Linked DNA regions of Homo sapiens. The protein of the gene in region 2 purifies or fractionates together with the protein of the main gene of each other region. This does not show direct contact. Each region holds a gene or a part of one and is shown on either strand. Other genes may lie near its edges.

What was found.
Region 1: the proteins of VNN1 (region 2) and PCOLCE2 purify together in Homo sapiens (affinity purification with mass spectrometry; one large-scale study listed by BioGRID and IntAct). This does not show direct contact.

What each region holds. Positions count from the first base shown.
Region 1 is NC_000003.12:142,837,051-142,840,705, forward strand, and holds part of PCOLCE2 (procollagen C-endopeptidase enhancer 2 precursor), read right to left. Parts: intron 1,857-3,655; coding exon 1,720-1,856; intron 1-1,719. UniProt on the Homo sapiens protein: Binds to the C-terminal propeptide of types I and II procollagens and may enhance the cleavage of that propeptide by BMP1.
Region 2 is NC_000006.12:132,686,424-132,690,078, reverse strand, and holds part of VNN1 (pantetheinase precursor), read left to right. Parts: intron 1-3,655. UniProt on the Homo sapiens protein: Amidohydrolase that hydrolyzes specifically one of the carboamide linkages in D-pantetheine thus recycling pantothenic acid (vitamin B5) and releasing cysteamine.

The DNA of each region.
Region 1 (3,655 bases), on a different chromosome or scaffold from region 2:
GTGCCCTTATAAGAGGGAGATTTGACTAAGAAGAGGAGACAGAAGCAGCGACTGAAGTGACACACTTTGCCGATGAAGGAAGAGGGCTACAAGCCAAGGCATGCAGGCAGACTCTAGAAGCAGGAAAAGCCAAGGAAACAGATTCCCTTTCAGAGCTTTCAGAAGGAAACAGCCCTGCCGACACCTTGACTTTAGTCCAGTGTCTGGCTTCCAGAACTGTAAGAGAATACATTTGTGCTGTTTTAAGTCGCTGCACGTGTGGCAATTTGTTACAGCAGCAATGGGAAAAGAATTATCTAGGAACTTAGAAATAGGCCCTTCTCCAATATATTCATCTGTAAACCAAATTTGGGTATGGTTATGCTTAAATTATAACTACTATCTTGTATGTATTAAAACATTCTTATCAATGTAAATGTAATAGAAAATACCCTCCTTTAACTCAAATATGTCAATGAAAAACCATAATAATGCATATAAAATCAAGTGATGCATATAATCTAATTACGTTTAAGCAACAGAGTAGAAAAGGGTATTTAAATTGGCATAATGGTGACTTGAAGGCAAGCTGCAGTAATTTCAGCTGTTGCTTTTACTAATATTGTAAGTGAAGTTATGAAATATCTTGCACCAAAATACAGTTATATATTGCACCAGAATTACACCAGAAATAGTTATATATTGCAGTTATATAAATGCAGTTACATAATTACACCAGAAATACAGTTATATATTGCAGCAGAGTTAAGTAACTTGCTCAATGTCACACAGTTATTAAGTGGCAGAACTCTTGGCTCCATAAATGTTTGTTGAATAAATACATGGTGCCTTCAAGGTCCACTTAGCAAAAATTTGGATAGCAATGTGAGGGGGAGGCATAAGGCCTCAAACAGTCCAGGACAGATCTCTGATAAGGTAAAATCATTTGGGTTTGTCGTAAACTTCTGGGTCTCCTTGTCTGGATCCCCAGTATTAAGCCCCCTGGTTGTTTTTGTTTTGTTTTGTTTTCAGAATTTTCCCATTCCACTCTGATGCTTGATCTCATTCTTACAGGGCAGTGATGTATCCAGGTACCCGGCTCTGCATCTGACCCTGGGGTATCACCAGCTCTACTTGTTTCTGTTTGGCTATTGACACTCCTGTTAATGTTGCCTCAGGGCCTGGGTTGGCTATTCTTTTTTGGTGGTGCTGACTCCATGGTTATGGGACTTGTAGTGGTTTGGATCTGTGTCCCTGCCCAAATGTAATATAATCCCCAATGTTGAGGAGAAGCGTGGTGGGAGATGACTGGATCATCAGGGCGGTTTCTCATGGTTTAAACACCATCCACCTTGGCGACAGTGAGCTCTCTGCTCTCTGGTCATTTAAAAGCATGTGGCACCTCCCCTCGACCTTGCTTCTACTCTGGCCATGTGATGTGTGTGCTCCCTCTTTCCTTTCCACCATGATTGTACATTTCCTGAGTCCTCCCCAGAAGCAGAAGCCTCATGCTTCCTGTACAACATGCAGAACCCTGAGCCAATTAAACCTCTTTTTTTAAATAAATTACCCAGTCTCAGGTATTTCTTTACAGCAGTGCGAGAACTAATAGAGGACCCAATAATTTAACAAAACAACAACAACATAAAATCTTCCAGAAAACAAATGTGATTGGGAAACTGAACAAGAAACAAGTTTAGAGCCATAAAACTATTAAAGACATAAATAGGTGCTACTTACGCAGGTGGACTATCACCACAATACTTTCCAATTCTTCTAGCATCGTTGACTTCCCCGCCATTAAACACAGCCACATAATCATATCGGCAGTAGTTATCTCGCTCCACATCAAACTTCTCAAACTTTAATTCTATAAGCTTTAGAGAAAGCACAATAGAAGTGTCAAATATTAATAGCATTGTTGAATAACCTCAAATGGAATTCTTCCTCTCCCCAGATTTGGAGGATACTACGATTTTCCTTTGTAAAAAAAGTATGCATTAAGTGCTTTTTGTTGCATATTTCTTATTTAGTTAAAAAAAAAACTGTGGTATTCTTTTGCTTTTAATTGTAATCTTTCCAAAAGATCATCTCAAACTCAGATCAACTCTAGTTAGGATATTCAACTTAAGAACTCTGTTCACTTACAGCTACAAAAGTATGGGAACATTATGTAACACTAGCAACCTACTTTAAGACTATAATTGGTTTTGGAGATCTATTGTACAGCATGGTAACTATAGTTAATAATAACATATAATAAACTTCAAAATTGCTGAGAGTAAATTTTTTTTTTTTTTGAGACAGAGTTTCACTCTTGTTGCCCAGGCTGGAGTGCAGTGGTGCAATGTCAGCTCACTGCAACCTCTGCCTCCCGGGTTCAAGCAATTATCCTGCCTCAGCCTCCTGAGTAGCTGGAGTTTCAGGTGCCCGCCACCACACTCAGCTAATTTTTGTATTTTTAGTACAGACGGGATTTCACCATGTTGGCCAGTCTGCTCTCAAACTCCTGACCTCAAGTAATCCACCTGCCTTGGCCTCCCAAAGTGCTGGGATTACAGGCATGAGCCACCATGCCCAGCCGAGAGTAAATCCTAAATGTTAACACCACATTCCACACACAAACAAAATAATAACTATGTGAGGTGGATATGTTAATTACTTTGATTGTGGTAATCATTTCACAATGTATACATATATCAAAATATAATGTTGCACATGATAAATATATATGTTGCACATATAAATATAATTTTCACTTGTCAACTATACCTCAATAAAGCTGCAGAGAAAAAGAAAAAGAAAGAGAAAAACAAGATTGTAATTGGATAACTGGATGTGTGTTATAGTGGGAAAAGGGGCTACATACCTTAATAGAAGCTAATAGAAATAAAAAGTATTATCTAAGATGCTCCTTATACTACTGTATGTCAGGGAGTAGTAGTGTGTGTGAATATATGTGTAGGAGGGTGAGCTGAGTGGATAGAGTTGTTCCCCTTTTGAGGGAAGGAGACTGACATTTCTATCAGATGTAAAGAAGTCAAATTTTCAGGACCAGTTATTCAGGGAAGTGGAATTGATGGCAGTGTCTTCTTGAAGTATGTTTGAAATGTGTGATACCGTGCACGGCCTAATCAGGGTGTGGTTATTTTTGAAGAGGTTGCACAGAAGCACTGATCTACAAAGTCAGTGTTAGGTTTTTAGTATTTCTCAATTTTTTGCACTAGTACCAATAATAGTGTCCTAAATTATTCACGTGAATAGAAAATTTTGATTAAATAGGCAATCAATCATTCCCCATACAAGCAAATGTTTAAAAGAACATTTCCAACATGTGAATCAAAGGAAACCTCACTGGATTTATTATTACCTATGACAGCTGGTACCCAATCTTGCCGAGCAGCAAGTGGGCAAGAACCCTCCTTGCTACTTCAGGGAAGATAAAGGACATTAATTCCTATTAGCTAGAGAAGACTCAAACACAGTAATCCAGGTGAAGATGATAATAGCAACAGCATCACAGATGGACACAAAGGTAATTTTGGCTTTGACCATAATTTCCACACATCTTTGGACTGAACTACCTTTTAAAAAGTCAGTGCCAGTGATAGGTGAATAATGCTTATTCATACTTAAGATGGCTTTAAATTGTATTAAAATATTTCCTCTTTGGGTC
Region 2 (3,655 bases):
GAATAAAAGCAGGGCATGGAGTCTAGACATATTTAGAAAATGGAACTCAGTGGCCAATTTGATGTGGAACAGGAAAACGGAATGGAGAGTCCAGAATGTGGCAGATTTCTGGCAAGAATGGCTGGGTGGGTGAGATGCATCTGACAGATCAGGAGGCAAGAGAGGAGCAGACTCACTGACAGTGGGTAGAGGCTGAGTTCAGTTATAGATGTGCTGGTTTTGAAGTAGTTATGAGACATTCAGCTGGACCCAGCCAGTTGTCTGTTGAATACTTTGGTCTGATGCTTAAGGGAGATACTAGAATTAGAAATATTGTTTCAAAAATCAGCAAGATACAAGGGGCAATTAAGCAAACAACAGTGAATGATACGACAAAGGAGACTGTACTGACAGTAAAGAACTATTGACAAAGTAGAACCTTTGGGAGCTTCGGTATTTGGGGCAGGAAAGGACAGAGGACAAGAAACCTGCAAATACAATTAAGAAATAAAGGAAAATTTAAAAAGAGAACATCTGGTAGATGCCAAGGAAGTAGAGACTCTTGGAGGAAAGAAATCATGAGGTGTATTAACACAATACGTTGACCATTATTAGCATTTTTGAGTATAATTTTGGCAGAATTTTCTGAGCTCATAATGATAGGATGATGGGCAGATTATATTGGGTTGAAAAGTCAAAGGGAAGTGAATGCACTTTTTTCCCCAAGAAATCTTATCTGAGACAAGAAGAAGAGAAGCAAGACAATGGTTTAACAGAGACTCATGGTCAGGAGAAATGTGTGTGTATGTGTGTATGTGTGTGTGTGTGTTTCTCAACAAACGAGAGAGCCTTGATTGCCTTTGTAGGTCTAAGAGAAAGAGCTACAAAAGGAAAAAATACATAAAATATGAGAGGAATCAGGTCCAGTGCAGTGGCCTGTAATCCCAGCACTTTGGGAGGTCAAGGCGGGCAGATCATCTGAGATCAGGAGTTTGTGACCCCTGTCCAACATGGTGAAACCTGTCTCTACTAAAAATACAAAAATTAGCCAGGCATGGTGGCAGGCGCCTGCAATCCCAGCTACTTGGAAGGCTGAGACAGGAGAATTGCTTGATCCTGGGAGATAGAGGTTGCAGTGAGCTGAAATTGTGCCACTGCACTCCAGCCTAGGCAACAGAGTGAGACTCTGTCTCAAAATAAAATAAAATATACAAGGAATCATTACTCCTACTCAGTGTTCCAAGGTGCTGGAGGAAAGAGGGAAAAATAGTATCATGAACACAGGTACAAAATGTCCAACAACTGGAAATTAAATGAATCATATTGTAGAAGAACATTTATTGCCATAAAATTATTACCATATACCATATGTTATATTAACATATATAGCCTTATATATGTGACATTCATATGGTATTATATTGCTATATAAATTTTTAAAATTAAAATATAAATTGTGATGTATTATTTTTAAGTTAAAAAAAGTTGGTCACAAAACAAGAGAGTAATCTCTTAGCTCTTCTTCCCTCCTTTTCCTTCCTGCCTCCTCAATCTTTTCCTACCTTTTTACCTCCTCCAGAGTCTTGGCTCTACCTAAAGAGAGTTGTGGGAAGTTCTTTCTTAGTGTTGTGAGGTAGGTTAGCTTTGTCAAGTAAAACCAAGCTTTCTGTTTATCTTGCTAGACGGTGATATTTCATCTAAACGATTGGTACCAGATATGTTTTGGAATCTTCCTATTTAAAGATAATAATACATATTACTTGATATTACCAGCAGAGTCTGGGAAAATACCCAGAATCAAACATATTAATATATCTATTGGAAAACATGGGATTATTCACCTTAAATAGCTTGAATAAAAATGTTATAGCCTTATGTTAATTCAAGTTAGGTCTTAATGCCAATGTGCCAGTGGGTTACAAAAATCCTTTATTTTCAGAAGATTTTGGATTTTTGTATTGAAGATAAGGAATTTTGGTATAATATTATATTTATAATTTTTCATAGTCTAACTGTGATGATATATTATGCTTGAAAAATCTCGATTATCACCAAAAGCTACCTCCAAACCAAGGGAAGAGACACAAAGAGAGGTAAAAGTGAAATAAACCCCTATCTTGCCACACAGATTTTCCAAGCATTTTATAGCAAATATGCATAATTTTGTTTATATCAGTATGTCATTGCAAACATCACTCAGAGTTTTGCTTTTATAGTTTTTCTTTGTTTTTCCTAAAGTTATTAATTGCCTTATTTTTTTAAATTTCGTTAATTTTCTTTGACTTTTTGTTAAAACCCCATATCTTCCAACAGCATCTCAGAATAATTTTTCCACAATATCATTTTCATAAGTTTATCTTGAGCTAAAAATAATAACCTTTCTCTGCACTGGTTTCCCTCTAGTCATTCTGCACAGTTGTCATATTGAGATTTCCTTTACTGTCATCCTAGGAATGCTCTCTTAGCTATTTCCTTGTTTTAGGTTCTCTGTTTTTCTCCTTCTACCTTTATTTGCTCCTTTGTTCTGTTGTAGTCAACGCTGTCTAGTCACATTGCTCTAATCTGAACTGGCTGCTCTCCATGCCTTGTATACGATAGGAGTCATCCTGGAATCTCCCTTTATCCTCATGGTGAAGATTTTTCTTTACCACTTCCCTGTGTGGATTTCCTGTTTTCTGTTCCCCGTCTTCCTTGTTTTGGGCTTGTGCCCTCTTTCTTGTTGTTAACAGTTTCCGGAAAGAGAGTGATCGGGATGCAAGATTTTTGAGACTCACTGGTCTGAAACTGCCTTTCCTCTTAAATTTAGTTAAGTATTTCCCTGGGCATGGAATTCAAAGGTGGTTATGACTTTTCTTCAGGATTGTGAATGTATTTATATCCTCCCATCTTACGTTGCTATTGAGAATTCTGAAGTTCTTCTGATTCCTGATTCTTTGTATGTGTATTCCTCATTCCACACCTTCCCCAGAATGCATGCAGAATTTCTTCCTTTCTATTTTCTTTTCTCTTTTTCTGAAACTCTTATTATTGGGATCTTCTGCCTCTTGGATTAGGGCTCTAATTTTCCGACATTTTCTCTGCTATTTTTTACTACTTTATTTTTCTCCTCTACTTTCTGAGAGATTTCCTCCTCTTGATCTTCCAAATCTTGTACTGAATCTTTTATTTTTGTTAACATGTTCTTAATTTCCAAGAACTCTTTTTTCTTGTCTTCGGAGTTTCAACACTTATTGTTGTTTTGTGCATGTATTATTTTTTCTTCTCTCTCTGAGGCTATTTAGGAAATTTTTTATTGAAGCTCCTCCCCCCTGCTTCCTTCAAGTTGCTTTTATCTGCTTTTTTATTTGCTTTTTCATGCAATAAGTTTTTCTCACATGTCTGGTAACTCTTGGGGATTACCAAAAACTCATAGAAAATTCTGACCATGTGAGTAACACTTGCCAATTTTGAGCTTCATGATAGAATGATCTAGCTGGACCTTTTGCTGCGGGGAAATCGGAGGTAAGTGTCTTTGGAGACTTCCTCTTGGGATGGTCAGGTCTCCCAGGTTTCAAGATTCTTCTAATTTCCTTCTTGAATCAGTTGCCTAATTTAGGAAATAAAAATACAGGATCTCCAGGTAAATTTGAAGTTCAGATAAACTTTGTTTTTTTTGAGAGAGTCTCTTTCTGTTGCC